Linked DNA regions of Homo sapiens: region 1 is linked to region 2. Evidence: fine-mapped expression QTL. A gene starts in region 2. The other region holds a variant in brackets. All regions are shown on one strand. Distances are from middle to middle.

Region 1 (15,908 bases), 120 kb before region 2:
TGGGATTACAGGCGTGTGCCACCACGCCCAACTAATTTTTCTATGTTTAGTGAAGACAGGGTTTCACCATGTTGGCCAGGCTGGTCTCGAACTTCTGACCTCAGGTGATCCACCTGCCTCAGCCTCCCAAAGTACTGGGATTATGGGTGTGAGCCACTGCGCCCAGCACTACCTCTTTCAATAATTGACTACTAGACCAAGAAAAAAAAAAAAGGTTGGGGGGCAGTAATGCTATAGAAAATATGAGCAATCCATTTACCAAATTTGACCTAATGTTCATGGATAGGCAGAGGAAATATTTTAAAGATGACACTCTTTGATCATTCTTTCCAGAGTGATCCATAGATCCAGTATAATCTCAGATTCCAGCAAGATTGCATATGTGTGTGTATTGGGGGAAGGGAAGTCTTGACAAGTTGATTCTAAAATGTATGTGGAAATATAAAGAACCTAGAGTAACCAAAACACTCTTGAAGAAGAAGAGGCTGAGGAAAGGAGGATGTGTTCTACCAGAAATTAAGATCTATTACAAAATATAGTAATTAAGGCAGTATAGTATTGGGGCAGGATAAACAAGGAAATCCATATGCATAATAGAGTTCAGAAACAGACTCATGCATGCATGAATATCTGATTTATGATAGCAATGGCACTGCACATTGTGCTGGGGCTGGTTTTTATCTGCTTTTGTTTTGTTCTTTTAGTAACGTGTATAAAGTAAAAAAAAAAAAAAATTAAAATAGATATGTAATGTCAGATTTCTACCAGAAGGATTTTTATCAAGTTATACTTGCAAGGATTAGGGACAATCTGTTAATAATTGCTAAGGGTTGTCTCCTGTTGTTGAAGCAGGGCCAACATTTAAATTAATAATTGATTTGTATGACTGTCTAGTAACCAGCTGATGTCCATTGTTGTCGTACTTACTACTTTATGTCCGAAACAATTAAGTGTCTTTTCTTTTCTGTGGTGTATAGGTTGTCAGGAATGAGCTCTTAGAGAAGCACTACAAACATGGGAGCAAGTTTCTGACTTCATTTCCAGATGGGACAACACAAATATTGTATCCTCTTTCAACAAGTTATTTTTATTAGCTTTATTACTTCAAAAAAAAGAAAGCTCAAGGAAGGAAATACATGGTTGGGTGCAGTGGCTCACACCTGTAATGCCAGCACTTTGGGAGGCTGAGGTGGGCAGATCACTTGAGCTCAGAAGGTTGAGACCAGCCTGGGCAACATGGCAAAACTCCGTCTCCACAAAGTGTTAGCTGGGCGTGATGGCACATGCCTGTAGTCTCAGCTACTCGGGAGACTGAAGTAGAAGGATCATCTGGGCTCAGGAGGTAGAGGCTGCAGTGAACTGAGATTGTGCCACTGCACTCCAGCATGGGCAACGAAGTGGGACCGTGTCTCAGAAAAACAAACAAACAAACAAACAAAACACAGAAAAAGATAAAGATCCAGTGTAATTGAAAAATAGAAATTTTAACTAAAAAGACATAAATAGAAAGATAAAACAAAACTATAAAGGAACTTAGTGTGGTGGCTTACGCTTATAATCCCAGCACTTTGGGAGGCTGAGGCAGGAGGATTACTTGAGCCCAGGGGTTTGAGATCAGCCTGAGCAGCATAGTGAGAGCTCATCTCTACAAAAAATAAGAAAATTAGCCAGGTGTGGTGGTACACACCTTGAAGTCCTGGCTACTCAGGAGGCTGAGGTGAAAGGATTGCTTGAGCCCGAGGGGTCAAGGCTGCAGTGAGCCATCATCATGCCACTGCACTCCAGCCTAAATGACAGAGCAAGACCAAGAAAGAAAGAAAGAGAGAGGAAAGAGAGGAAGAAAGAGAAAGACGGATGGAAGGGAGGGAGGAAGGAAGGAAGGAAGGAAGAAGGAAGGAAGGAAGGAAAAAGGAAGGAAGGAAGGAAGGAGAGACTACCCTCAAATTCTACCACCCAAAGAAAAGATGTTAGCATTTTATTACTATTGTTTTTTTAAGACAGGGTCTCACTGTGAGGCCCGGGTTAGAGTGCAGTGGCACAATTATGACCCACTGCAACCTCAACCTCCTGGGTTCAAGCAGTCCCCCCAACTCAGCATCCTAAGTAGCTGGGACCACAGGCATGCACCACTACACCTGGCTAATTTTTTAAATTTTGGTAGAGATGGGGTCTCTCTATGTTGCCCAGGCTGGTCTTGAACTCCTGGGTGCAAGCGATCCTCCCACCCCAGTCTCCCAAATGGCTGAGATTACAGGTGTGAGCCACTGTGTCTGGCCAGCATTTAAAAATATATGTTTTTTTGGCTATTCTGAACACAATTCCTATGGAGTAGCCCTGCTCCACGAAGAGCAATTAAAAAAAAAAAGAAAAGAGAAAAATAAAAAAAGAAAAAGAAAAATATATGGTTTTTGTTTGTTTGTTTGTTTTTTGAGACATAGTCTCACCTAGGCTGTAGTGCAGTAGTGGGATCTTGGCTCACTGCAACCTCCACCTCCCAGGTTCAAGCAATTTTCCTGCCTCAGCCTCCCGAGTAGCTGGGATTACAGGCACATGCCACCACGCCCAGCTAATTTTTGTATTTTTAGTAGAGACAGGGTTTCGCTATGTTGCCAAGGCTGGTCTTGAACTCTTGAATTCAGGTAACCTGCTCACCTTGGCCTCCCAAAGTGCTGGGATTACAGGCATGAGCCACCACACCCGGCCTATGGGGTTTTTTAAAATGTTTTTTCTGTGTATGAGCATATATATATATATGTATATATAAATGGATTCTTTGTTTATTCATATTTTCTGACTCCTTTACATAATGAAATTATACAATAATGTTATAAATATATGATATGCAATAAATATAAAGATACAACACATTTTTTCCCCAAAAAACCATCCACAGGTAGCAACACCGTTTTATAACCACATAGTACTTTATTATATAGATGTACTATAATTCATTTAACCTATCCCCTATTACTGAACAAAAGTGGTTTCACAATTTTTGCTATTATACACAACAGCTAAATAAACAGCTTTGTGCATACTTTGTGGCATAGTTACCACTTATTTTCTTGAATTAAATACCTAGGGGTTGAGGCTGGGCATGGTGACCCATGCCTATAATCCCAGCCCTTTGAGAGGCCACAGTGGGCAGATCGCATGAGCTCAGCAATTTGAGATCAGCCTGGGCAACATGGTGAAAGCCTGTGTCTACAACAAAATACAAAAAATTAGCCAGGTGTTGTGGTGCACACCTGTAGTTACAGCTACCTGGAAGGCTGAGGTGGGAGGATTTTTCTGAGCCAGAGAGGTGGAGGCTGCAGTGAGCTGTGATCGTGCCATTGCACTCTGACCTGGGCAACACAGCAAGACCCTATCTCAAAAAATTAAATAAATAAGTAAATAAATAAATAAACATATAGGGCTAGAAATTCTGGAAGAATAATTTGGACATTTTAAAGCTTTGATAGATTTTGCCATCCCTCCACCCCAGAAAATATATACCAGTTTACACACCCATGAGTGGTGGACAATTTTTAATACCAAAATTAAATATCCATTTCATGGAACACCAAGTTATTGATCACTTGGACTTTCTGCCTGATGGCCAGGTCATTCATTTAATATTTAAACTTTTTGAGCTTTTCAGATCCTCATAATATCTGAGGAAAGTAAAAACAAGAAGCAAAAAAATGAGGAGGCTTTTCATGAACTGAGAGCCTCCCCCTGTAGAAGAAAGTCATTTTTGGTCATCGTTTCGTAAGTGTTTACTTAAACCCCAATAGTAAGCCAGAAAAATGACTTTCACAGAATAGGAAGCATAATGAAGTTTTAGTTCCCTAGACCTTATGAGAGTGTGTAGGTTTTGTTTTAATTACATCAATAAATTTTAAATAATTTACCTGACCTAAAAATTTTTTTAAAGTTTTTAGAGACAGAATCCTATTATGTTGCCTAGGCTGGCCTCAAACTCCTGGGCTCAGGTGACCCTCCCACCTCAGTCTCCCAAGCAGCTGGGACTACAGGCTGTGTCTGTATAAAAACCATATAAAAATATACAGTTTTCCAACTTTTATTATTAATCATTTCATGCCCTGACTTTATTCCTCTTAACTTTCTTGAAGGCTGTGGTTGATTTGCAAAATGATTTAGAATCAATCTTGTGTTTATTTCTGGACTTCTAACCAGCCTGGATATGGAAATGAGTATTAAGAGTTAGTGAATTATCTTCAGTATATTTTATTGCTTTTGATGCTATTGAAAATAGAATTGCTTTCTTAATCTCATTTTTAGAATGTCTACTGTTAGTGTATAGAAATACAATTTATTTTTGTATATTGATCTTGTAGCTTACAACCCTGCTGAACTCATTTATCGGGTTTAATACATTATCTTATGAATTCCTTAGGATTTTCTATATACAAGAACATGTCATCTGCTAATAGGTACAGTTTTACTTCCCTTTCCAATCTGGATGCTTTTCATTTCCTTTTTTTTTTCCCTAAACTTCCATGGCTAGAACTTTTTTTTTTTTTTTTTTTTTGAGATGGAGTCTTGCCCTGTCACCCAGGCTAGAGTGCAGTGGCACGATCTTGGCTCACTGCAACCTCCGCCTCCCAGGTTCAAGCAATTCTCCTGCCTCAGCCTCCTGAGTAGCTGGGACTACAGGTGCACACCACCATGCCTGGCTATTTTTGTAATTTTAGTAGAGATGGGGTTTCACCATGTTGGCAAGGATGATCTCAATCTCCTGACCTCATGATCCACCCGCCTCAGCCTCCCCAAGTGCTGAGATTACAGGTGTGAGCCACCACGCCCAGCCAGAACATCTATTAATAGTGCGATGTTGAATAGAAGTAGTAAGAGTGGACATTTTTGTTTAGTTTCTGATCTTAGGAAGAAAGCACTAAATCTTTCACCATTAAGTATAGTTTTAATTGTGGGTTTTTTTAAATTAAAAAAATCAAAATTCTGAAGATGAAAAAAATTGTTTTGTAGAGACAGGGTCTTACCATATTGCCCAGGCTGGTCTGGAACTCCTGGGCTTCAACAATCCTCCTGCCTTGGCCTCCGTAAGTGCTGGGATTATGGGCATGAGCCACCATGCCCAGCCCAGCTGTGGGCTTTTTGTAGATACTCTTTATCAGGTTGAGGACATTCATTCCTATTTGAAATCCATTGAGTTTTCTTATTATTAAGAGGGCTGAAACTTGTCAAATGCTTTTTCTGTGTCTGTTGAGATGACCTTGTGTTTTTTGCTCTTTATTAATATGGTATATTAAGTTATTTTCAGATGTTAAACCAACCTTGCATATCTGGGGTAAACCCTACTTCATCATGGTGCGTAATCCTTTTTATATTGTGACAGTTCATTTGCAAGATTTTGTTGAGGATTTTTGCATCTCATGAGTATATTCTGATCCACATAAAAAGCATAAAATCTTTTGTATTAATATAGTACCTCCCATTTTCAGAATGCTTTATGATTTCAGAGTGCTCTCTCATAAATTGAATTTGTTCCCAGAATAGTCAAGGAGCATTAGAACAATTTATATGACCTTATCTGATCTCAGCTATCCATCTGGAAACCTAGCCATCATTCGAGTGCCCAACAAGGTAAATGGTTTTACTTGTATAGTCCAAGAAGATATGCCCACTAACCCTGCTATCCTAGCAGTGCTGGATTCCTCTGGCAGAAGTTCCTGCTATCATCCCAATGGAAATGTCTGGTAAGCTTCTAGGTTCCTGCTGCTGCCATTTTGTGGCTTTTGTTCTGGGAAATTTTGTTTTTTCTTTTTAAATGATAAGAATGGGTTTCAGAAGATTTATTTAAGTTAGTGTTCTTTAGATGGTAATGTTCAACTCAGAGACATTTTTGGTTTACACCATTCCGTATGCTTTTCAGTGGAAAAATCCCAAGCAATTATAAAAATAAAGCTCATCATATTATTTCTATACATAGTAAGAATATATGAACTATATAATTACAACATACAAAAAAACTTGATAAATGATATGGTAACTCTAGGGATTTGGGATGTAACTGAGGCAGTCTCTAGAGCCTGTGCCCTGATGATGTTATTCTGCTTCATCTATGTAAACAACTTGTCAATAGACAGTTGATACACTATGTTGTTATTGTTTGAGATACATTCCTAACTAGTAAGCTTCCTATAGCCACAAGCAAGAAGAGTAACATACACACAAAATCTCCAGAGAAATTAAGATCCTGGTCCCAATTTAACCTACTATGTATATACTCTGTGACTTCATTTAGCCTGACAAAGTGAAATTTGGGTTCTAACTTCCAATACAATTTAAACTTTTTGAACTTTTCAGAAAGAGGTCTTTTCCTTTAAGTTATATACAGGTATAACAATCTCATCTC[G/A]GGAACCTCTGCCAGTAATTGGTGAAGTTTATATACTGCTAGTCCTTCAGAAAGTTAGGATACCGAGCTATTTGTGTTTTTCGTCCACAGCAGTAGTCAATTCATTACCACCATGTATATTGGAAACTTTCTACTTATCTTTCAGGATTCTACAGCAATTCTATGTTACCTTTGATGCAGTGCTATACTGTCACCAATATTCGTTGGTTTCTAGACTGGAAACCAATCGGTTCTTCCAGATTGGTTTTATGAAGCCCCTGCCCCATAAACTGAACTCCGAGGCACCCTGAGATGGCTCCTTGATACTCTCATAGCCCTCTCTGCCTCTTGTGTAGTGAGTCCATTTCCCTTACTTGACAGACATTCCTTGAGGGCACATCCTGAATCTTTGCTACTACATAGCAGCACATCTGTACATAGTGTAGACTCAAAGAATGTTTACTAAATAAACAAGGGACTGATTTAGCCAGATAATTTTAGCTGGATATTATTTTCACCCAGATTTCAAGATAAAACTAAATCTTCCCTTCCTAGACACAATCAGATAATCACCTCAGTTTCTCATTTGTGCTTTTGTTATTAGATTACTACCACTGATCAATACTGGGTCCAATTTAACCTACTATGTATATACTCTGTAACTTCATATTATTTCATTTAGCCTGACAAAGTGAAATTTGGGTTCTAACTTCAAATACAATTTAAACTTTTTGAACTTTTTAGAAAGAGGTCTTTTCCTTTAAGTTATATACAGGTATAACAATAACATCTCTAACATGAGATGTTAGCTAGGGGTCCCCATGGCCAAGTCATCTAGTTTTCAAAAAATAATTTATTATCAAATTAAGCCAACTTTCTGAGTACCCAGAACACTATATCTACTGTCTCTCCTCAAGGTGGGGATGGTAAGAGGGTATGAGAAGGAGATAACTGAATAGAATGGCACAGCGATTAGTGCTGCCAGATCTCAGATGGTGAGGGGCTAAACGTGATGTAGTAAAATGTAAGGCATTCATGGTCTGAAGAGATGGGGTCGCCTCGTGGGTCTAAGGTCCACCTTTGCTCTGTCACAGACCTCTTCTCCACTGCAGTGATCACAGAGGTGTTCCCTGAGCCTCTGCCCCCACATTCAGCCATGATGGGAGGACTCCTGGAAGGACTCCTAGCTCCTAGTTGGGAATTGCCAGAAAACAGCTCTCTTGTACTGAGGTCAACACAGCCTTCCCCAGAATTTACAGCCACAGGTCTTTATTTCGGTGTGGTGAAAATCTAAGCACTGGTCTTTCCTCCTCTTTCAGGATTAATCTACTCTTCTGTATCTCATTTTCTCCAGACTAAGCCTTCCCTGCTCCCTCTTCAACCTTCCAGACTCCTTCATCCCAGGCTGATCCTTTGGACCCATTTTAGTTTATCAGTATGAACTCAAACAGGATACAGTACTTCAGATTCGTGTAGAATTTAGTCATAGTATTATCACTCCTAAGATTACCTGAAGTTTCCACCACTCCTGCTAATCGCTGGCATAAACCGTTACTCCCCTTGGTTAGCAAGTGACAGGGATAATTCCAGTATTTAATTACAGTGTTACTGTTTATGATATTTACATTTCCTTCCTGACCAGGGTATACATCAATATCTTGGGAGGTCAATATTCAGATCAAGCCGGCAACAGAATAAGGGCTTGGAATTGGTCAAATTCCATCACTTCCTCACCCTTTGTTTCATTTAAACCTGTCTTTCTGGCTTTGAACCGTTATATTGGAGTCCGCATCTTAGAACAAGACAAGATTTCTATAACTTTTCTAGCAATGGGCCAACAGGCAAGAATCAGTGTTGGAACCAAAGTGAAGGTAGGTACATTTTTAAAAACAGTTTAAAGCATTTAGAATAATAATAAGAGTAAACTAACTTTTGTTAGTATTATTACTGATAGATTACACTAGTGCATAATCTACTGTCCACTAGGATTTTGGAATTCAATGGAAAAACATGTAATGAAAGCTTCATATGGAATTGAGGTGGCTTTACTGTTTCTTACTCTGAAATTCCTTTTAGTTCAGACTCAGATCCAAGTAACACTTATTGAGTGTTTGCTCTGTGCCAGAGTAGTGCTGCTCTGGGGGTTTAGTTTAAAGATTTCGTATTGTGTTTGTTTTTCTCCCCGCCATGGTAGAGAGACTTGGGTTGGGTCAGGAGACCTGAGTTTGAATCATGTTCAAGACCAATCATAAGCCCTGTCTCCTTAGAGACACTTCCCAGACCTCCTAGTCCTTCACCCAGTCAGCCTCAACCACATCCTTCTGTGGGTTTTCTGTGTACTTGCCACCATCCCCGTGCTTGTTGAACAGTGCTGCCGTTCCTACTGGATGGCAAGCTCCTGACAGGAAGAATCTCTATCTTGTTGACTTCTGTAACTCCAGTGCCTCTCCCAGGGCACAGCCCTGAGTACACTCTCAGTGACCGGCAATAATGCACGATGGTTAAGAACGTGGAATTCAGGTTGCAGATTCTCTGTAGTTTCAAACCTCAGCTCTGCCACTTGACTGAGTGAGCTTGAACTTCAGTTTCCTTATCCATAAAATGGAATAATGATTCCGACCTTACAGATTGCTGTGAAGATTTGATGAGAATGCAAAGTACTAAGGGTGGTACTTGGCACTAAATAAAATAATATAGACATAGAGATGGATACAAATAGAGATGGATGTATAGCTATATACATAAATAACACATATAGTGTGTGACTTTGAACAGGTCCCTTAAACTTTAAGGACCTTTGTGTCATTGATTTTTTTTTTTTTTTTTTTTTGAGATGGAGCCTTGCTCTGTCTTCCAGGCTGGAGTACAGTGGCGCGATCTCAGCTCACTGCAACCTCCACCTCCCAGGTTCAAGCAATTCTTCCTGCCTCACCGTCCTGAGTAGCTGGGACTACAGGCGCCCACCACCATGCCCGGCTAATTTTTGTATTTTTAGTAGAGACAGGGTTTCACCATGTTGGCCAGGCTGGTCTCGAACTCCTGACCTCAGGTAATCCACCTGCCTCAACCTCTGAAAGTGCAGAGATTCCAGGCATGAGCCACCACTCCCGGCCTGTTTCGTCGATTTTTTTTTTTTTTTTTTGAGATGGAGTCTCTCTCCGTCGCCAGGCTGGAGTGCAGTGGTGCGAGCTTGGCTCACTGCAACCTCCGCCTCCCGGGTTCAAGCGATTCTCCTGTCTCAGCCTCCCAAATAGCTGGGACTACAGGCACACCACCATGTAAGGCCTGTTTCATTGATTTTTAAAGGAAGACATAGCTCCAAACTTCAAAAGTGCCTTCAACTTTTAAGTATGTGGAAATAGAATCTCAATATTCAACACAGGAAGGAATATCTCATGACCACCAAACAAAGGGGAGATTTCAAATTCAGGCAACATAGAGCGAGGGTCTACAATGTGCTAAGCACTTTTCCAGTTCCTTTCAGTAAGTCTGGAAACTGCAGTCAAATTTTTAGGCTCCAGACAAACTTCTTTCTTGGTTAGAAATCTGCAGTATCCCCTCCTTTTGTTACATTACATCCATAGTAAATACATTCTTACACAAAATATAAAAATACTTCTTTCTCCCCTCTCTCTCTCCCTCTACTTCCTTCCCCCACCCCTGCACCTCCCTTCCTCTCCCCACTTAGAAATTAATTTTAATCAAAAAAGAGTCATTTTGATGCAAAAGGAAGAGTTCATTATTAAAGTTTTTTACTTTTCTCATTGTTCTCATAATCACCCTTTAGGTTTTTTTTTTAATTACAAGCAACTTGTGAATATATTTTTATATTTAAAGATTTAAAGATTCAAACAATACAGAAATAAAGATAATTTTTTAAAAAATGAGATTCCCTTTATTTCTTCTTCTATTCTAACTCCCTTCCCCAAAGTAAGCACCACACAAAATTTAGTGTGTACCTTCCTTCTTACTATGTATTTATAAATTATTTTATACATCTTTTTTTTTTTTCAGATGGAGTCTCGCTCTGTTGCCCAGACTGGAGTGCAGTGGAGTGATCTTGGCTCACTGCAACCTCCACCTCCCGGGTTCAAGCGATTCTCATGCCTCAGCCTCCTGAGTAGCTGGGGCTCAGGCGTGCACCACCACACTCAGTTAATTTTGTATTTTTAGTAGAGGCGGGGTTTCACCATGTTGGCCAGGCTGGTGTCGAACTCCTGACCTCAGGTGATCTGCCTACCTGGGCCTCCCAAAATGCCGAGATTATAGGCGTGAGCCACCGTGCCCAGCCTATTTTATACATCTTTTTTAAAACATAAAAATTAGATAATATACAGATTATATTGTTGATGGGGGTTCCTATTTGTTTTTGTTTCCCACTTAGTAAGTATTGAAGATTTATTTGTGTCTACATTTTGAAGAATATTGAATTCAATATAAATATTAAATTTATATGAAATTTAATGACTTCTCAGTGGCATTAAACACTGATGATCTCTTCTTCCTGGAATCATTTCTTCCCTTGCTTCCAAGACTATTCTCCCCTGATTTTCCCTGTACCTCACAGGCTGTTTCTTCTCATTTTTCTGGCCTGATTACTCTTCATCTCCCCTTTTTCTAAATATTGGAGGAACCCAGAGCTTGTCCTTGGGTGGTCTTTTCTCTATATTCACTCCTCAGATTATCTCAGATAATCTCATTATCTGATTATATTATCAGATTATCTCATTGAGTCTCACTTCCTTAAATATCATCTGCATGCTGATAGCCCTTTAATTTGTATCTTCAGGTAGATCTCCTATGAACTTGAGACTTGCAAGTCTCTGATTCCAATTCAACATACCCATCTGGATTTCTAAGGGGGCATGAAAAAAAACACAGGCCAGGCGCGGTGGCTTATGCCTGTAATCCCAGCACTTTGGGAGGCTGTGACGGGAGCATTACTTGAGCCCAGGAGTGTGAGACCAGCTTGGGCAACATAGTGAGACCCGATCTCTATGAAAGTCGTTTTTTAAATTCTCCAGACATGGTGGCGCATGCCTGTGGTCTCAGCTATCTGGGAGGCTGAGGTGAAAGGATAACTTGAGCCCACCATTGGCGGGGTGGGGGCAGGGGGTTCAAGGCTGCATGAGCCGTGATTGTGCTGCTGCACTCCAGCCTGGGCAACAGAGCAAGACCCTGTTAGGAAAAAAAGAAAAAACTTAACACAGCAGAACTTGATTTCAACACTTGATCCAGTCTCAGTCCTCTCCATCTCAGAAAATGGCAACTACATTCTTTCACTTATTCAGGACAAAAACTCGGGAGTAGTTTCACAACTCTAAACGCTGTTTCACAGTCCCATACCAACTCATCTGTAAACTCTACCTCCAAAATACCTCCAGAGTCTCACACTTCTCACATTTTCCAGTGCTATCATTCTTGTCTGCCTCTTTACCTGATCCATCTCTTGCTTGATTATTGCAATAGCCTCCTAATAAGTCTCCCTGCTTCTGGCCTTCCCAAAGTCTATTCTAACACAATACTTAGAATGATACTTTGAAAACGTAAGTCTGGTCAGAACTCTCCGGGGACTTCTAATTTTACTCGAGTAAAAGCCAAGGCCCTATAAAGACTTGCAATGCTGTACACAATCTGGACCTCTTTCTCTGAATAATCTCTCTGTATTATCTTATCTCACTCATTCTGTTCCAGCCATACTGGCCTTTTTGCTATTCCTTGAAAATATCAGGCATGTTCCTGTCACAGAGTCTTTGCATTTGCTGTCGCCTCAACCTAAAATGTTTTATCCCCATTTAGCATGTGGCTGTTCCCTCACTTCCTTCAGGCTTCTGCGCAGCGTCCTTTTCTGAGCAACCCATCAAAACCAGCCACACCCACCCCCACCTTCTCCCTAGCACTCTGAGTGCCTCTTTGGTCATTTGCCACACGTTTTAATATATAGTGCTGTCATTTTCTTTCACTTCTAAATAATTTAGAATACCCATTTTGACTTCAATGCAGTAGTCACTGAATTTTCAAATAGATAGAAAGATTTACCCCTCTCTTGTTAATTTCAAAATGGTCAGGAAATATGACTTGCAGTTTTTTCCTTCCTGTTTAGAATATATTGATATTTTCTTTGTGGTTGGTTACATAATTTTTATAAGTGTTCCATGTATATTTAACCAAAAAAGTTGTACAGTTTATTGGTACAAAATTCTATGTCCAGTTGTTCTAGCCACACCTCCCTCTCTATCCTTTTATTTTTGTGTCATTGGGTTTACTTCTGAGAAATGTATGAAAGTTTCCCAAAATGGTTGTGAACTTGTTCATTGTTTCTAGTATTTCAATCAACTTTTGCCGTATATATTTTGAAGCTCTGTGATCAGGAAATTAAAGATGCTGACTCTCTTCTTTGTGAGTTGTACCTTTCGCCAGGGCCAGCCCATTCTTTCCCCTCACTCATTCGCTCTTCAGTTGTTCCCATTACGCGCCCTAGTGTATTAGTGAGGGTTTTGTTTTTATTTTGACAATAAAGGTAGTAATGTTATCAACATGTGTTATTCCTAATTTCCCTTTTAGTGGCCTTTACCTTAAGTGCTATTCCATCTGATGTTAAATTCTTACACTTGCTTTCTCTTTGTTAGCGTTTGTTTGATATTTTTTCATCCTTTGATTTTCAACCTTTTTAATGTAGTTTTGAGTTATATGTTCTCGGGCAAACCACATATAGTTGGATTGTGTTCCTTTCCTCAACCTAGCAGACTCAGTGGTTTTTTTGTTTGTTTGTTTTTAGAGACAGGGTTTTGCTCTGTCACCCAGGCTGGAGTGTAGTGGCGTGACCATAGCTCACTGTAACTGAAAACTCCTGGGTTCAAGCCATCATCCTGCCTCAGCCTCCCAAGTAGCTAGGACTACAGGCATGCACCACCATGCCCAGCTAACAGACTCAGTCTTTTAATACACTATATTTTAATGGTTAGTTTAAAATTAACATATCTTTTATAATATGCATAGAATTAACTTCCAAATCCTCTAGTTGTTTTTCTTCCTTAACAATATTCTCTCAAGTCCCTCGGAAAATATTAACTATATAAATATGGATATATTTCCTAAAGTCTTCCTCTATCTCCTAATTATTTTTCCTTGAGTATAAGTTTCTCTGATAGGTAAATCTGGTGCCTCTCTTTAGTGGCGTCAAATATTCGGTGATTCTCAGTTGTGTGTTCAATTTGAATTTGAGAATTCCTGTTTCCCTGTTCTGCTTACTAAAGTTTGCTTCAGATGCTAAGGGGTAGAAGGCTAGCGCTAGTGCCCGCTGCCAGCCTCAGCCTGTGGGCATCAGTGCTCAACACAAAAAGGAAAAGGTGAGGGGCCTGCCTCCCAATTGATCAGCCTAATGTTTACCTCAGACTCCATCCTGCTTCCCATTTCTGTTGAGTTTGAGCTCAGAGTATATGTGTTTTTGGTTAGTGGTTTCATTTCGTCATTTCTCTCTATATGCATATGGTCTCATCTGCTTTTTGATTTTTCAGGAATTCCTTAAAATTATCCTGCCGATGAAATCTTTCTTATTCCAACCCCGCTGGAAACAAGGTGGGGGCAGGGGGATAAATCTTTCTTATTAGAGCCATCATTGACTTAATCTGTAAAAAAGTTTTCTGTCATGGTGTGATATTTGGGGTAAAAGATTCTGAACTATTCTTTGTTATTTGTCCATCTCATACTCTTTCCTTCCTCTATTCCTTCCTTTCTATGGAAGGAGGAGTGAAATACAGAAATGATACTGTAAGTATCACCTTTGCAGGTAAGTGGTCACTTAGCTTGCAGAGGGTAGTAGTTCTGCTTGCATTTAACCTGCCCCAGAGAGGCTAAATGCCCCTTCTAGGCTGGCTTTGAAGCTACAGACTGAAAACACTTCAGGCAAGACTGTCCTGGCAAATCCATTTAGGCTTCTGCAGCTGCAAGAAGACAACACCAGCCTTGAATCGTCAAAAGCTGTGAGAGAGTGGGGAGAGCAGAGGCCAAAGAAGAGTAAGGGAGAGGTTAATTTGGAATGGCCTCCTGGAGGTTGGGGCACATTTAGGAGCAGGAAAGGGAGTTTTAGTTTTTCCCAGTCCTACCTTCTCTGCGGAAAATTGCCCTTCTCAGTGCCTTCCCAGTGAGCACCCAGCCTTCAGACCAGCACTCACCCTACCTCCCCCACTGGGTACTTTCCAGGCAAGGGACTGTGTCTGAGGCATCTTTGTGATCCCCTCAGTAGGTGCTGGTTAAATTACTTGAATAAATTATAGGCTTTTGAAGGTATCCAGATTCCATTTGGTCTCTCAAGTCTCCACAGTGTTTCAGCTCTTTCTTCATTCAGAGTAGAATAACACCACCGCCCCTGCTTACGGATGAATTAGAGTGGACCCTCATCAGGGAATCCAACCCCACATAAGTGCCATGACTCAGCTCCTCCCACCTCCCCAGTTCCACTTCTGGACTCTGAGTTTCCTTCTCTTTCTCTTTGCTGAAAAGCTACCAAACCCTGAGGAGATTCCAATCCTCCGATACGTAAGTGGAGATGACCTTCTTCTGCTGGCCAGTTTAATAAAGATCCGTCGCCTGTTTCATAAACTTGAAGGATGTGTGAATTTTCCCTCAAGCCAGGTTTGGGAAAAATTAAAGCAACCTTCCTACCTTTCTTCACTTTCTCTAAAACTAATTGCCCTTTGTCACAGTTCTGGTATAAAGCAAGATATAATGAAGACAATAAGAAATATAATAAATGAAGAAATTTAACTAAGAATGATGGTGCTTTCATTTGTTTTGTTGAATTTTTTTGGGTTTTTTTGGTTGAAGTTTTTTTGGGGTGGGAGGATCAGGAGTGTGATGGCTAGTATCAATCAAGGGTCAGCTTGATTGGATTGAAGGACGCAAAGTATTGTTCCTGGGTGTTGTCAGTGTGGGTGTTGCCAAAGGAGATTAACATTTGAGTCAGTGGACTGGGAGAGGCAGACTCACCCTCAACCTGGATGGGCACCATCTAATCAGCAGCCAGCGCAGCTAGGATAAAGCAGGCAGAGGAAGGTGGAACGAGCAGACTTGCTGAGTCTTCCAGCTTTCAACTTTCTCCTGTTCTGGCTGCTTCCTGACCTCGAACATCAGACTCCAAGTTCCTCAGCTTTTGGACTCTTGGACTTACACCAGTGGTTTGCCAGGGGCTCTCAGGCCTTTGGTCACAGACTGAAGGCTGCACTGTTGGCTTCCCTAGTTTTGAGATTTTGGGACTCAGACTGTCTTCCTTGCTCCTCACCTTGCAGAAGGCCTAGTTTGGGACTTCATCTTGTGATGGTGTAAGTCAGTACTCTTTAATAAGCTCCCCTTCATATATACATCTATCCTAGTAGTTCTTTCCCTCTAGAGACCCCAGAATAATACAGGGAGGATTCAAAAAAAGTGTACAAAATGACTAAAATACCAAGAAATATGCTATATTATCAATTTAGAACAAATTCTGAGCATTCACTGGTTTACTTTTTTTTTTTTAAGAGATGAGGTCTCACTGTTGAAGTGGTGTCAT
Region 2 (15,908 bases):
TTTTATGAAAGGAAATCATGAGTTCATACTGATATAGGCAAGTCTATCTTTTCACTCTAATGCTGAAAAATCTTGGTGCCTAACAACATTAATACAATTAATTTACTCTATCCTATAGTAGATTCAAATGACAATATCAACTTTCAGTTAAAAAGAAAACTATTAGGCCAGGCATGGTGGCTCACGTCTGTAATCCCAGCACTTTGGGAGGATGAGACAGGTGGATCACCTGAGGTCAGGAGTTTGAGACTAGCCTGGCCAACACGGTGAAACTCTGTCACTACTACAAATACAAAAAAATTAGCCAGGCATGGTGGCAGGCACCTGTAATCCCACCTACTTGGGAGGCTGAGGCAGGAGAATCGCTTGAACCTGGGGGGCAGAGGTTGCATTAAGCCGAGATTGCACCACTGCACTCTAGCCTGGGCAACAAGGGCAAAACTCAGTCTCAAAAAAAAAGAATTTTGCAGGTCTTCACATGGTTATGCCACCAACCTGATATAAAGCTAGAATCACTTATTTTAGTTTCCCAATTTTTTTTTTTTTTTTTTTTGAGACGGAGTCTCATCTTTTTGCCCAGGCTGGAGTGCAATGCCCTGATTTTGGCTCACTGCAACCTCCACCTCCGGGTTTCAAGCGATTCTGCTGCATCAGCCTCCCGAGTAGAGTAGCTGGGATTACAGGCGCCTGCCCCCACACCCGGCTAATTTTTGTATTTTTAGCCGAGATGGGGTTTTGCCATGTTGGCCAGGCTGGTCTTGAACTCCTGACCTCAGGTGATCTGGCCTGCCTTGGCCTCCCATAGTGCTGGGATTACAGGCGTGAGCCACCGGGCCCAGCTTTTAATTTAATTTTTAAATTTAAAACAATTATATGGTCCAAAGTCAAAACTATACCAAAGCTCTTTCACAGATGTGTCCCCTGCATCCTGTAACTCTCTCCCCCGCATTCTGTAACTCTCTCCCCCTATAGATAAGCATTTTTAACTAGTTTTTGGTTTACTTGTCCATTGTTTCTTTGGGGAAAAAAAAATTAATCTAGCTAGCTATATACTATGTGCATATATATGTCCTCCCTTTTTAATATCTTTTTCATTATGATTTCACTAAGATTACTGGCCATGATTTGGCTATCAAATTTGCAAGTTTTTCTCATTCCTTAAGATACAACTCTTGTAAAATAAAGGCTTGTATTCAATTACACTAGTGTCTACACTTTTTCTTAGTATTGTTCCCCCTACCTTATAAATAGGCTTAAGTTACTATTTTCAGATCTGAAGATCATTTTCCTTGATAGAGAATATGTATTCTTTTCATCTTCGGTAAATATTATACAATAAAAATGAGTTCATCTGTTCTTTTCCTTTCTTGTTCAAAATACACCACCAACAAAACCATTTTAGATTGTACTGTATGTTCCCTATAACATTACTTAACAAAATAAATCATACCTTGGAAACACTGTGCTTTCTGTAAAATGTGGTGGTCCATTCACCATGTACAGTCCTTCTGATCCTCGGACTAAAGAAGTAAAATAAAAAGAACCACAATTACTTTGTTAATAAAGACTCAGTTAACACAAATGTGTTTTTTAAAAAAGCAGCTTTAGTCAAAATATTAATGAAATCATTAAATATTTCATTGAACTATAGAATATTAGCAACAAAAGGGCATATTTTCTTACTCTGTTACATAAAATCATATAATTGCTGAGAAATACGTAACTTTTTAAATAAAACTCGAAACTTTGTCACCACTGAAAGAAAGGCAGCTGTCTTGTGGTAAAGAGGACATGAATTCAGAGCCTGACCTAAGTTTATAACTGCCTGTGGAACCTTGGATACGTTACCACCTCTGAATCTGTGACCTAATCTGTAAAATGGAAATATCAGAACACAGGATAGCTGTATGCTTTATATAAAGTAATAAAAAAAGTATATGTTTAAAGTTTTTAGAAATATAAGGCAATATTAATATATTCACAATTTATCAAACTAAGAGAACAAGTGGAATGAGACATATTCATTTATTAAGGCCCCAATGACAGTAATAGCCTAAAAAATTAAGTGGAAACAAAGTTCAAGATTAAATAATCATCTACAGAACTAGACTATACTTCTTATTTCTATGTTTAAATTTATTTATTTTTTTGAGACAGGGTCTTGCTGTCACCCAGGCTGGAGTACAGTGGCATGATCAAGGCTCACTGCAACTTCAAACTCCTGGACTTAAGTGATGCTCCTGGCTCAGTTTCCCAAGTAGCTGGGACTACAGGCATGTGCCACCCTGCTTGGCTATTTTTTTTTTTTGTAGAGACAGAGTCTCACTGTTGCCCAGGCTGATCTCTAACTCCTGGGCTAAGGCAATCCTCCCTCCTCAGCCTCACAAAGTGCTGAGATTACAGGTGTGAGCCACCGCACCTAGCCTAGACTATACTTTTTTAAATGGTTGAATTAAATGCTTCTAAAGCTGAACCAAATAAATAGATTCATTTAGTCAACAAATGCTTAGTGGGAAAAAAACGAACAAACTACCTCCTAGGCCCTGTGTTGAACATTGGCGAAATAATAGGAAAGAAAATCAGCCTTGTCTCTGACCTCATTGAACTTTGCAAACAGTAATCAAATAATTGGCCAAATATACGGAATCATATACCTGTGTTTAGTCCTTCAAAGGAAAGGTATATGGTACCACTGAGGGTATAAAAGAGAGTTTTAACCTAAAAATGGAAGGTTAGGGAAAGCATCCTTAAGTGTTTTGTATACTGAGATGTAAAGGATCAATGGCAGTTAACAAGCAAGGAGAACAGTTAACAAGTGCAAAAACCCCATGGAAAGAAAAACGACAGAGCGTCAAGGGGATGGAAAGAAGGCCTGTGTGGCTAGAGGATGATGAAGCTGGAAAACAAAATAGGGCTCAGGCTAGGCGTGGTGGCTCACACCTGTAATCCCAGTACTTTGGGAGGCCGAGGCAGGCAGATGGCTTGAGCCCAGGAATTCAAGACCAGCCTGGGCAACATAGGGAGATGCTGTCTCTACAAAAATTAGCTGGGCACGGTGGCACATGCCTGTAGTCCCAGCTATTCGCACGGCTGAGGCAGGAGGATCACCTGGACTTGGGAAGTCAAGGCCACAGTGAACCATGATCATGTCACCCACCACCAAGCCATGTTAAGTTTTATATTTCTTGTAGAGACGAGGTTTCACTACATTGCCTAGGCTGGTCTTAAACTCCTCAGCTCAAGCAATCCAATCTGCTTCCCTCAGCCTTCCAAAGTGCTGGGATTACAGCTGTAAGCCACCTGGCCCAAACTGACATTTTGTACTTCTAAGATGCCTTGCTAGATTTAATTAGTTTTTCTATTAAATAAATTTAATAAAAGCATATACAGTTTAATTTACTCCTGATAAGCTGTGATACAAAGTTTATTAGAAAAAAACACAAAATCAGGTCCATAACAGAACATAAACTGTTTTAAACTAATAAAAGCAAAAATAAATAGGGACTAAAAAACTTCTCAATACTGAAACAATTTTTTTCTACATGTAACTTTCTAACAAGGAATCCTTTTTAGTTACAAGTATCTGTGAAACTAAATACAATGCGTAGTTAGCTTAATATAGTGTATTCTGAGTTTGTGTGATTCCCTGTTTTTAGTGATTTCCCTCTTCAATCAAATGGGATTGGCAATATGTTCTAGCAGAAAGAAAAATCTAGAATGCAAGCAGTTCTTTTAAGACAACAAATAAACGCCAGTTTCACACAGTAGCTGTGTGAAATACATTAAACATCTACATAATCTTTTCCAAGCTTACTAGCCTTTTTAGACATTCATATACTATTTATTGCTCTAGGCCTGAGTTAGAGAGAGAAAAACACAGGGCTTCAATAAACAAGGATCCCATGGCAGGGGTGTAGTCATCTTTAAAATACGATACTTTTCCCAACTCTTACATTCACTGAACTATGTATTAGTTTAGGAAAATCACTCAATTTTGAATAAATTATCTCTGTGACTTCAACTGGTCAAGCAGATTAGACAATGTGAATTTCACGTAATGGACATTGCTGTTTTATGTGCCTAGCAACCAGCTCCTCTTCTTTAGGAGGCGCTCATTTTCTTTTGAGGAGTATCGAGGAGTGGGAAGATAATTTAGTCCTGACTACATGATTAAAAGTTGACTGATACAAAGGTGAGCCAAGCAAAGTCAAAGGCAGCTAGCCTTGAGATTTTTGCTGAGACTACTGGCAAAAATGTGTTCTTTCCTTTGGAGCTGGGCATTTGGTTGAATGTCAGTTTAAAGATGAATTTAATCTGGAGGAAAGCAAGAACCTACAGATGAAGAAAAACAGATTTCTGGCCAGGCATGGTGGCTCACACCTGTAATCCCAGCACTTTGGGAGGCAGAGGCGTGTGGCTCACCCGAGGACAGGCGTTCAAGACCAACCTGACCAACTTGGTGAAACCCCAACTCTACTAAAAATACAAAATTAGCTGGGCGTGGTGGTGCACGCCTGTAATCCCAGCTACTCAGGAGGCTGAGGCAGAAGAATTGCTTGCACTTGGGAGGTGGAGGTTGCAGCGAGCCAAGATCGCGCCATTGCACTCCAGCCTGGGCAACAAGAGCGAAACTATCTCAAAAAAAAAAAAAAAGAAAGAAAGAAAGAAAGAAAAACAGATTTCTGAAGCCATGTGAGTATCTGGATCTAGCAGTACTGAGGCTTTTAGGTTATACGAGTTTAAAAAAAAAAATCCCTTTTTCACCTGCTTTGGCTTGTCACTCCCAATTAAGAGTTGGGGTTAACAAAATTTACTGGCTAATCTGCAAATTATTCACAGCTCTAAAATCCCACGAGTCTAAATTTAACAAAAGATTTTGGAAGTAAAATAATCTATTGTTGAATGAAATATGTACACTGAGAATGTTTAAAAGATTAAACAGTTTGTTCTAGTGAAAGAAAAATGGACCACAGAGTTGAACAATCTGAATAAGTATAATCCTAATCCTGCCAATTTGCAGTGTGAATCGGACCACTTAATCTCTCTGGGCCTCTAAGAATATGAGAATATGAAGAGTAGACTGAACAGACAACATTTAAGCTCTTACAAAGTCCCTGATTTTAAGCACTGTAAGACAATTGTCATCCTTGGTTAATTTACTATAAAGTGGCTATCCTTCATTAATTTAAAAGGATAGTCTAAACAGACAAATCTAATCTAGATCTCTTGTATGCACAGTTCAAAATAGGGTTTGCGCTCTTATGAGGCTCTAATGCCCCCACTGATCTGACAGGAGGGGAAGCTCAAGTGGTAATGCTTGCCCAGTACCAGTCCGGCCCAGGGGGTTGGGGACCCCTGATTTAGAGTATCTATTGTCTACCAGGCACTGCACTAGTACTGAGAAGACAGATATGAATAAGACCCTGTCGCTGACATTGAAGGACTCACAGTCTAGCAGGGGAGAAAGGCAAGTGAATGTCTAATTATCCTACTTAGTAAGTGAAATAAAATTTCAAATATATTTCAGGTACAAAAATAGCCCAGGAAGTGACTGACTCTATCTGGGTAGAGTGACGAAAGGCTTCACAGAGCAATGATATCTAAAATGAATTTTAATTTCAACAGATGAAAAAGAGTTTGCCAAATCAACAAGAGGCATAGGATAGTACTAGACTGAAGAAACAGGTTGTTCAAAGGGACTCAGAAGCAGTTCAGTATTGATGGAGCACCAAATAAGATGGGATGGCAAGGAAATAAATGAGTCTCAAGAGCAATTCAAAGATTATAAATGGTTACATAACTATGCTACATAGGATGGAATCTACCCTGTAAGCAGAGAGGAACTACCTACTGTAGGCATTTTTAAAGGAGGGGTTATTTATCAGATTTTAGAATGTAATTTTTTCATTAGAGTTCAAATAAGCATTTAGTATTAAAAATTGTGAATAACAAGCTACCTTTACAAACCTAAAAAAAAATTTATTATGTAACTTTGCCTTTTAAACAGTCTTTGCCTGGTATATTATCTAGAAGATTATACTCGGCGTTTGATAAATGATGACTAAACTGCAGAAGACAGACTGAGCATCAGTGGGCATGGCGCTTAATAACAAAGATTTTAAAATGTAAAAATAGAAATGTAGACTGGCAAAAAGTGCAAAAATGTTTTAAGGTTCCTTTCGCGGGGGGGAAGGGAGGGAATAGCCTCCCTCCTTAAATGCAGACAACCTTTCTCTTAATGACTTTTTCCTTCTATATAGTTATCAGAACTTAACCAAAACCTTCTTTTCCTTCCCGACTCTCTTTTCCTTACGTAATACTCATATGCAGACTCTTAGCCACACCCTAGTAAAGCAACTTCCCCAGCATTTTCCAATCTAAGTTTATTATCTCCTCCAACACTACAGTCTTTAGCTTCAAAATTTCAAGAGTCCTCTAATGTTCTATTTCTAATATGCTCATAACCATTTCAAAATCAAATGTTGCTAGAATATCTCTATCATGCTCACTGCTACACCCTCTCCCAACCACACCTTCATCATTTGAAACCTGCATTACAGCTCCACTCTCCCTATTCAGTCCTACAAACCTCATTAAGGCAGGAAGGCCAGAATCTGGAATTACTTAAGTCCAGGTGTATTTAAAGTGCGTGATCATTCTAGAGGACTAACTCATGTTTGTCTTTGTTCTTATTGTAGACCTAAATGACTTCACAAGGGCCCGTGTAACACCAGTATTGCAGACCCATGTGTCACAAATTCAACTAGCACATTGTTTTTCTCCCCCTTCTTCTATTTCTGTAGAAGATGAATCCGCAGGCAAGAATGATGGATGGGTGAAAGGGAGGGGGAATACGAAAGCCCAGAGGCGGAGACTTCACTTCCGATTGCCACGCTATATCAAGAAAGCCAACAGTCTGGCCTTTCCGCAAGCCACAAGAAAAGGCAGATCAGACTCCCCGGCTCCTCGGGTAGTTCTCAAAGGCAAAGACAAAAATAAGAAACTAGTCTGAAGAAAGAGAGTCCCTCGCTTCTTCAGAACTCACCTGTCAAGAGCGGCGTGGACGGCGCCATGTTGTCCCGGAAAGAGAAACCGCTCGGGTGAGAGTTCACCAGGGCCGAACCCGGCCCCTACACGTCTCCTCATGCGTGGAGACAGCGAATTGGTGTTTCCGGAGCCATCAGCCTCGGGGCCAATTCACTTCCGGTTACGGAGTGACGCGGAAAAGGCGCCCAAACGCGCACGCGCAAATCTAGGGCGACGCTTGACAGAGCTTGGGAGGGTGCGCCTGCTTTCGCCCTCCTTCTCCAGCGGGAGGGGCGCGCACTTCCGCGGGGCGGAGTCCGTCTAGTGCTGACGTTGGCAGCCGAACCCAAAGTAGATCGAGGCGGCGGGCTGCACATTCCCGTTGTTGCGTTGCGTTTCCTTCCTCTTTCACTCCGCGCTCACGGCGGCGGCCAAAGCGGCGGCGACGGCGGCGCGAGAACGACCCGGCGGCCAGTTCTCTTCCTCCTGCGCACCTGCCCCGCTCGGTCAGTCAGTCGGCGGCCGGCGCCCGGCTTGTGCTCAGACCTCGCGCTTGCGGCGCCCAGGCCCAGCGGCCGTAGCTAGCGTCTGGCCTGAGAACCTCGGCGCTCCGGCGGCGCGGGCACCACGAGCCGAGCCTCGCAGCGGCTCCAGAGGAGGCAGGCGAGTGAGCGAGTCCGAGGGGTGGCCGGGGCAGGTGGTGGCGCCGCGAAGATGGTCGCCAAGCAAAGGATCCGTATGGCCAACGAGAAGCACAGCAAGAACATCACCCAGCGCGGCAACGTCGCCAAGACCTCGGTAAGGAAAGAGCGGGCGCCCCTCTGCGTTCCGCAGCCGGAGCTGAGTCCGGGTCCCTGGGGCCGCGTCGCGTTTTCTCCCGGATCCGGCCGACCGTGGGCTGGTGCCGTGGAGGGGTAGGGGCCCGAGTCTGCGAACCGCCAGACTGTGGGGGCTCGGGAACGGAAGGGGAGACCTGTGAGGTGAGGGGGCCGGCGACCGGCGTGCAGGCGTGGGAGCCTGGGGTCCGAGTGGTTTCTCTGCATCTGAAATGGTGGATTTTCGCTTTTGCAGAGAAATGCCCCCGAAGAGAAGGCGTCTGTAGGACCCTGGTTATTGGCTCTCTTCATTTTTGTTGTCTGTGGTTCTGGTAAGTGGCTTGGGGGCTCCCATCAGGTAGAGTCTTGGGTTGAAAGGATTTGGGATGACGTGGTGACCGGTCAGTAGTGAGTCCTACCTGCGTAGTTCTCAACCCACCTGCCGAGGACTCCACATAATTCTGTTTCGTCTGAACCAAATTACTTGTTCCACATATGCACAGAGGGTGGTGCTCCAGAAACTTCTCCCAGCTTAATTTGTACTCACAGGAGATCAAAAAGGAGGTCAGGTCTTGGTAATGATCCAGTTGGAATAAATGTTAAGACCGGACAAAACCTAACGAAATGAGAATTTAGAATGTTTTGTAACTCCATTATCAGTCTTTGCAAAGAAAATTATAAATATGTACTATAGATGTTAGAACTTGATTTAACATATACCAGAATCTAATGTCTTAATGTCAAAATTGAGTATATTTTATAAAATAAAGCTTGTGCAAAGAATTGATTCACTATAGAGGAAATTACCTGATTGGCATTTTAATGTGTGAGTCAAATGTTTTTAGGTTAATAAAAGAAACGTTTGATACATGGTTTAAAAAAAAAGTGTCGGGGTAGCCTGCTGTCCCCTAAGAGTAACAGACACTTGCCTTTGCAAATAGATTACAAAAAAAAGGTCTTTCCTCTCTTCATTTATCATTTTAATATGCAAGCTGTTAATATTGAAGTAGATGTTTGTTTTCCACATTCTAAAATTACTGAGATTTCTGTTTAACGTTTCACTTTGCCTTTCTTCTTCACTTACCAATTGGAAGCTTTCCTGATAAATGGATGAGAGCCAAGCAGTTTATATAACCTGAAGATGATTGAATTTCAGCTTTGTGAGAATGAGGAAACATGCATGTGTTACAGGCCAGGCCTTAAAAGGATGCTTATAAACCAAAATAATTCTATGCTGGAAAAACCTGTTGGCTTTGGTGCTTTAAGTTCTTTGTAAAATGATTACTTATCTGCAAGTTCTCTTGGATACTTAGACATAAAGTTCAGCGAAGCTAAGATAAAAAAATAACTCAGGGATATTTCATTGTTTTATTTATTCAGACAGGCCTGTCTTCACTTCTTATTATACTGAAGTTATGTACCATTTGCAAATGTAAGAGTACCTTTGGATTCTTCAGCTACCTTAATAAATATTTGTTAGACACCAGACCTATTTTATTCAAAGCTTATTTTAATATTTGCTCTTTCTTTTTACAGCAATTTTCCAGATTATTCAAAGTATCAGGATGGGCATGTGAAGTGACTGACCTTAAGATGTTTCCATTCTCCTGTGAATTTTAACTTGAACTCATTCCTGATGTTTGATACCCTGGTTGAAAACAATTCAGTAAAGCATCCTGCCTCAGAATGACTTTCCTATCATGCTTCATGTGTCATTCCAAGGTTTCTTCATGAGTCATTCCAAGTTTTCTAGTCCATACCACAGTGCCTTGCAAAAAACACCACATGAATAAAGCAATAAAATTTGATTGTTAAGATACAGTAGTGGACCCTACTTATTCAGTCAATTAAGAGTAAGTTTTTTTATGTGGTTATTAAAACAGTATGAACAATTAGTCTAACTCTGCATAGACAGGGTCTAGATTTTGTTAACCCAAATGTATAACTGCAGTTAGCTTAAATTACAATTTGAAGTCTTGTGGTTTTTATATAGCTAGGCACTTTATTACTCTTTTGAACTGAAAGCACACTCCCTTATAGGTTCATGTAACTGTCCTGTAATAAGGTGCTTATAAATGGAACAACTACACAGCCTAGTTTTGCCACAACCTTTAGCATCTAAAAAGTTTTAAAAGCTTCTAAATGTCTAATATAAAGGGAGATGCTTATAGCCACAACATCTATTTTACCAATATTGTTTCCATTACACTACCTTGGATTTTGCATGAGTGAGTATAGTAACCCAAGATGCCATAAAAAAAAAACTTGATCGTTTTCTGACTTAATCAGTTACTGTGGTTTCACTAAAAGCTACCGTGGTGGAGTGAAGTCAGTCAGGGAAGGTTTGTTTATGTTACATTTATTTCACCAGAACTATTTTAATATATCAAAGGGGTTTACTATGCCAAACAAAATTCTAGGGAAAAATACTGCTAAAAATGGATGCCTCATCAGAACATGCTGTTGAGTCCAATGTGCCATAAGACATTTTAGCATGTTAAATAGCACTTTTAATAGCAAAAAAAGGCACATCAACTGCGAAGTTATCCTTAGTTTGCAAATGCTTTTTCTAGATTAATGATTTTTCAATCATTAGGGTACTAGACACATCAGCCTAAAGTGGCATCTGGAATTGAATGGATTTACTGATAATGATCAGTCTTTAGTCTTCCCTTTGTTATATGACTTTATAGGTTATGATTGATCAAATTTACGTTTTACTAATGGTAAGGGTGAGGGTCATAGGGCAGGTTTTGGGTTTTCTAGTACTGTTGAAAACTGCAAGTATTGGCTATTTGTATACTTAGCCATAACTTGGTGAAAAAAAACCTGAGCAGTGTCTATGTATTAATGCGTTGGAAAGAAAGCTGCTTGTGTTTGCTTTGTTAATTGCCTCAGGATATTTCTTTTAAAATAAGCTGTTTTAAGAGGAACAGAAGGGAAATCTGCTACCTAGTCTATACACAGCGTGAACCTCACAGGGGGCTTCTGATACCCTCAAACATGGAGAACAGTAAGGGAGCAGAGTGGTTAAGGACTTTCAGGAACTTAACTATTCTGGAATAAGGAATGAATCAACTGACCTTGGGCCAGCAGGTTTTTAACTAAATTGTTACTTGCCTTTCTCACCCAGTTAATCAGTCTCTGTACTTGTTTCCCTTTTTGAAACAAGTGTCTTGGTTAACTAATTCTGTTTTATGGTTGTGCTAAATTCATAGCAGGTGCCTTATTCTTTGCTTTTAGTCAAACCATTCCATATCAGAATTTTCCTTGGTTTACTATAGATATTTGGCTTTAAGTTGTTGTTTGTGTTTTTTAATGTACAATGTTCTGATAAATTTGACTGTTAAATTGCTATAGCTAGCAATCATTTTACATATGTAAAATTGCATTCCCTTTGTATTTCATGTGTAATTCACCAATTAAGTGCAGTTTATATTCAGGTTGGATTATGCATGTTTAGGTAAACGAAAGCTGTGTCTTACTTGATTTATTCTTTAAAAATAAAGTTCCCTGAATATTTGATGCTTTTCTTCTAAACGGAAATGATTTTACAGTTATCTGAGTGTACCTTTTATAGTTAGTAGAAAATGATTTTAAAGAATGTTTAGTATTGTACTTAAATGGTATGCAGAGGCACAGATGTAAGGTTTATAACTGGAAATAGGTGGTAAGAAAAATATATAGAAAGCACAATGATTTGAATATTTTTCCACTTAGGATTTCCTAATCTCCTTGTCATCCAATTCAAGCTCAAGATGAAGCACAATTCTTTGATCTCCCTTTGCCAGTTGAATTTTATAGATCATCTAATGTTGAGCACAGTATGAGAATAAATATTGGGGTTGTCAACATTACTCAGTTACTCTTTGTGGTTTAACTCTAACATTTCAACAAGTTGTCAATTAATTGTATCTGTTGGGTTGTATATAATGTTGCTCAAAATAATTAAGTGGACTTCCAAAAATAAGATTTCCATTGTAACAGGATGCATTGTGATGGGCTTTGACTTACATTAAAGAAATGTGGATAGTCAACTGCAGGGCCATGACTCTTCTCACTGAGGTTACTGGAGTTCTGTTGGTACAAAGGACAACCATGGAGAGCTGGATTATGTTCCTGGGCTTAGTAGGTTCACCAGCAAAACTTTATTATGCTTCATTTGTGAAACTTAGAGCATCAGATTCTCCATTTAGAAATTGTTCTTAAGTTTGATTTGCCTTTACTTGCCTTTGTAGTTTTTAAATTTATTTTTTAGATGCAAACCGTAACTTCAAGAGGTAGGAGTTGATTGGCTTCAACAGCAAACTCTATGGCACTCCCTCAGAGAAGCATTTCCTGTCTAAACTTACTTAGTACCACAGTAGCTACTTGTACTACTTTATTTTCAAATTGAATTAGGACACATGTCCTTATTTAGAAAGAGGATTAATGAGCAATAAAAGGCTAGAAATTAAGGGAAAAATTAACTGCCTAGGCTTAGGTAATTCAAAGTAAATATATATCACAGAAACAAAGAAGGGACATGGAAAATTTAATCCAACTGCTTCAATTCGCAGATTAACAAAAACATGCATTTTAGTCAGTGAACAACTTATATGCCAGGTATGGAACTGTGAATACATAGTCCTGACACTGAAATATCTCAGACCAGTAGAGAAGGAACAGACAAAATGAAAGCATAACTACAATTGTAATAAGTATGTCAAAGGACAAGTAAAGCCAGATAAATTTTTTTTGTTGTTTTTTGTTTTTTTCAATCACAGAGCTAATTGGGGGAGAGCAGAAACGAACCAAAGTTTCTTGTACTTTATGGTAATAGGAATGATTGCAAAACTTACACTTAGAACACTTCTGTTTTCACGAGCTCTTTGCTTCTGCTTTTACAGAAATTCTTTAATTTTTTTTTAATTGCCAATTCGAAGGAAAAAGGAATCTGTCCTTTTATGGGTGCATTTAAAAAAAACTAGTGACAAATTTACTAGTGGTGCTCCCTGTACAGCACAAAAATGCAAGGGCTAGTAATGTTACCACTGTGATACATTTAAGGTTACATTTTTAAAAATTATTTTGCTAGAGTTTTTAATAATTTTTCATCTGGGCCAGGCGCGGTGCCTCACACTTGTAATCCCAGCACTTTGGGAGGCCGAGGCGGGTGGATCACCTCAAATCAGGAGTTCGAGACCAGCTTGGCCAACATGGTGAAACCCAGTCTCTACTAAAAATACAATATTAGCCGGGTGTGCTGGCGCATGCCTGTGATCCCAGCTACTTGGGAGGCTGAGGCAGGAGAATATCTTGAACCTGGGAGGCGGAGGTTGCAGTGTGCCAGGATTGCAGCATTGCTCTCCAGCCTGGGCAACAAGAGTAGAAACTCCATCTCAAAAAAAAAAAAATTAAAAAATTTTTAATCTGTGTTGTTGAAAAGTGTAAAATAAATAATTTTATTTTGTTTTTAATTTTTTAAAAAATAGAGGTGGGGTCTTGCTATGTTGCCCAGGCTACTCTTAAACTCCTAGGCTCAAGTGATCCTCCTGTCTCAGCCTCCCAACGTGCTGAGATGACAGGCAAGAGGCACCATGCCTGGCCAAAATAAAAATTTTTAATAGGCAGTCCAGTAGTCCGAAAAATGAAGCAATGTGCTCCCCAGAGATACTTTTTATAACAAAGGGTTTAATGAAGATTTTCCAGTGTGCAGATTTCTACTTTGCAGTGCAGATAGAATACATCTGTGTATTTAAATTATTAAAACATTACAGTATCATTACATGGACTAACAACAAATTTTTATTTTCTAACAGTGTGTTATGGAGAAAGCCTGCCAAACGGAGAATGAGAATAGTTTACTTTGAACTGAAATAATTGATTTAGGAGCTTTAGAAATGATCTTGATTGGGCCTTTTATTTTACATTTGAGGACATATGGCCTAGAGATACTGTCCTTCCTAACACCAATAAAGCAATGGCAGAGCAAGGATTAGAAAACTGGTTTTGTAATGATGAAATTGGCACTTAGTATGTTGAATGTCAAGGAATTATGATGCTTTAAGCATGTCTCCTCTATTTTTTTTAGCAATTTAAAACTTTTATATTAAGAATGTAATGTTTTCCTTTTACCTTTGAAGATTATGTATTAATCTAACGAAACTCAATGAGTTCTCCATGGTGGTAAAATCTGAACATTTATTAACCTCAAATGGCTTTCCACCGCCATTGGGAAGAAATAATTCTTTTTGCCTTGGTTTTCAGGAGGCTTCACAACCTACCTATCAGCCTTGTCCCCCACAGCTTCCCTCCATAGAACTGTTCTAGCCCTGATTTTTCAGATACCTTGAACTTAAGGTTGTTTTGCCCACTTTTCCTGCGTTACAATACTACCTACCCTTTCCAGCTTTAATTTCACCTCTCCTGTAAAGCTTTCTCTTGATGTGGGATTCAGGAAGACTCTCTTTGGGACTTACAGCTCTGGACCAGTTAGCTTTATTACATTCACATGTTTATTATTTTTGTTTCTTAGTTTCTCAGACATGGAATCCTTAAGGACAAAGGCCATATCTTTTCTTTATTTCTTCATCTACCGTCATCACTCCCTTGGCTAGTACAGAGCTTTACACATATAGTGGGAGTTCAACATATTAGTTGAGTGATAAAGTGAAAAAGATCGATGAATGCCTTATATCAGAATAATCTTTAAGAAGCAGGTCTTTTTGTAAAATCCCCTAACCCTGGTATAACAGTCGTCCCAACTACTTCCAAGCTTGGTGACCTCTGGTTGATGACTGGGCTCAGCACCAGAATTCAGTTTCTTTACCCTTTAAACAAACTCCTCCAGGATAGGCTTGATATTTGGAAGTACTTCAACAGTGTGATATTTGTCTTTCAGTTGTATTTGAGAACGGTTCATAATGTGGCATTGAGAAAACAAAAAAGCACTTTATCAAAGAAAGCTGACACTTTACCACACTGGTCAGTCCGGTTATAAGGAAAGAGTCAAACAGCCATACTTGCTGTTAGAGCAGGTGCTTGTGGGCTGTCAGCTGCCCTCTGTCTCAGCCCCATCCTAGGGTATAGGACGGTACAAGGACACCACACCAGTGCACCCTTCTCTGTGCCAGACCCATGCAAACCAGGCGAGTATACTCCAAACCAAATCCAGTCCCTGAGTAGAGGTAGCTTGTTCTCACAGAGGAATTCCCCACTGCAAGTCCACACCATTTTGACTATCATTTAGGATGTGGTGTGGCTGCCAAACCAAGTCTCACATTGGGCAAAGGAGACTCCAGCACCCTTTTGGGAAAGTGTCATCCATGGAGCCACACAGAGCACCCTACTCAGCACATTTAGCTTCTGGCACCCAGAAGTGCCATGAGACCAGGGTAAACCACCAAGACGCTGCAACTTTGTTTTCTGTTTGACATGTGAGCACCAATAAACGCACAACTGCAGATCCTAAAGCACAAATACATTCGGGATTGAGATAGATTGTAATTGCAGATAAAGCCTAAATCATAAAGGTGATTTTACAGTGGGAGTATCCAAGCATGTTTCTGCCTAGCTCCAGCCCTAGTTACTGGTGCACAATCTGCCTGTTAATTACTCGTGGATTAAGTGGAGAAGAAAGGTACCACAGACAATGAACGTCATCCGGAAAGTCATTTGTTCTTTCTTGAGAATAGTATAAAGATGTTTTTCAAGGCCAGATTCTTTTCTTTTTGTAAACATCCCACTAAAATTCATCTGTGTTGCCAAATACACACAGGGAAAGCTGACCCAGCAGAGTTTAATACTCAGCCTGGTTTTGTTCAGGCGCGGTGGCTCAATCCTATATACTCCCAGCACTTGGGGAGGCCAAGGCAGGTGGGTTGCTTGAGCTCAGGAGTTCGAGACCAGCCTGGGCAATATGATGAAACCCTGTCTCCACAAAAAATACAAAAATTAGCTGGGCTTGGTAGTGTGTGCCTGTGGTCCCAGCTACTCGGGAGGCTGAGATGGGAGGATTGCTTGAGCCCCGGAGGCAGAGATTGCAATGAGCTGAGATCACACCACTTCACTCCAGCCTGGGCAATG

What was found.
Region 1: its variant is fine-mapped to the expression of EIF2A in whole blood (INTERVAL, PIP above 0.99).

The regions. Positions count from the first base shown.
Region 1 is chr3:150,659,111-150,675,018 of GRCh38, reverse strand. ERICH6 (glutamate rich 6) reads left to right here. Exons shown (of 14, transcript NM_152394.5): 11 at 978-1,063; 12 at 5,568-5,723; 13 at 8,004-8,232; 14 at 14,864-15,134. The coding sequence ends at 15,127. Among named protein-coding and RNA genes, the nearest start is that of ERICH6-AS1, 36 kb to the left of the region's middle. The variant G/A (reference allele first, on the strand shown) is at 6,383.
Region 2 is chr3:150,537,968-150,553,875 of GRCh38, reverse strand. EIF2A (eukaryotic translation initiation factor 2A) reads right to left here and starts at 7,089. Exons shown (of 14, transcript NM_032025.5): 1 at 7,046-7,089; 2 at 1,451-1,520. The coding sequence starts at 7,073. SERP1 (stress associated endoplasmic reticulum protein 1) reads left to right here and starts at 7,380. Exons shown (of 3, transcript NM_014445.4): 1 at 7,380-7,824; 2 at 8,098-8,173; 3 at 9,378-11,878. The coding sequence starts at 7,741. The coding sequence ends at 9,418. RefSeq lists enhancers at 6,782-7,321, 6,594-7,793, 7,239-7,869.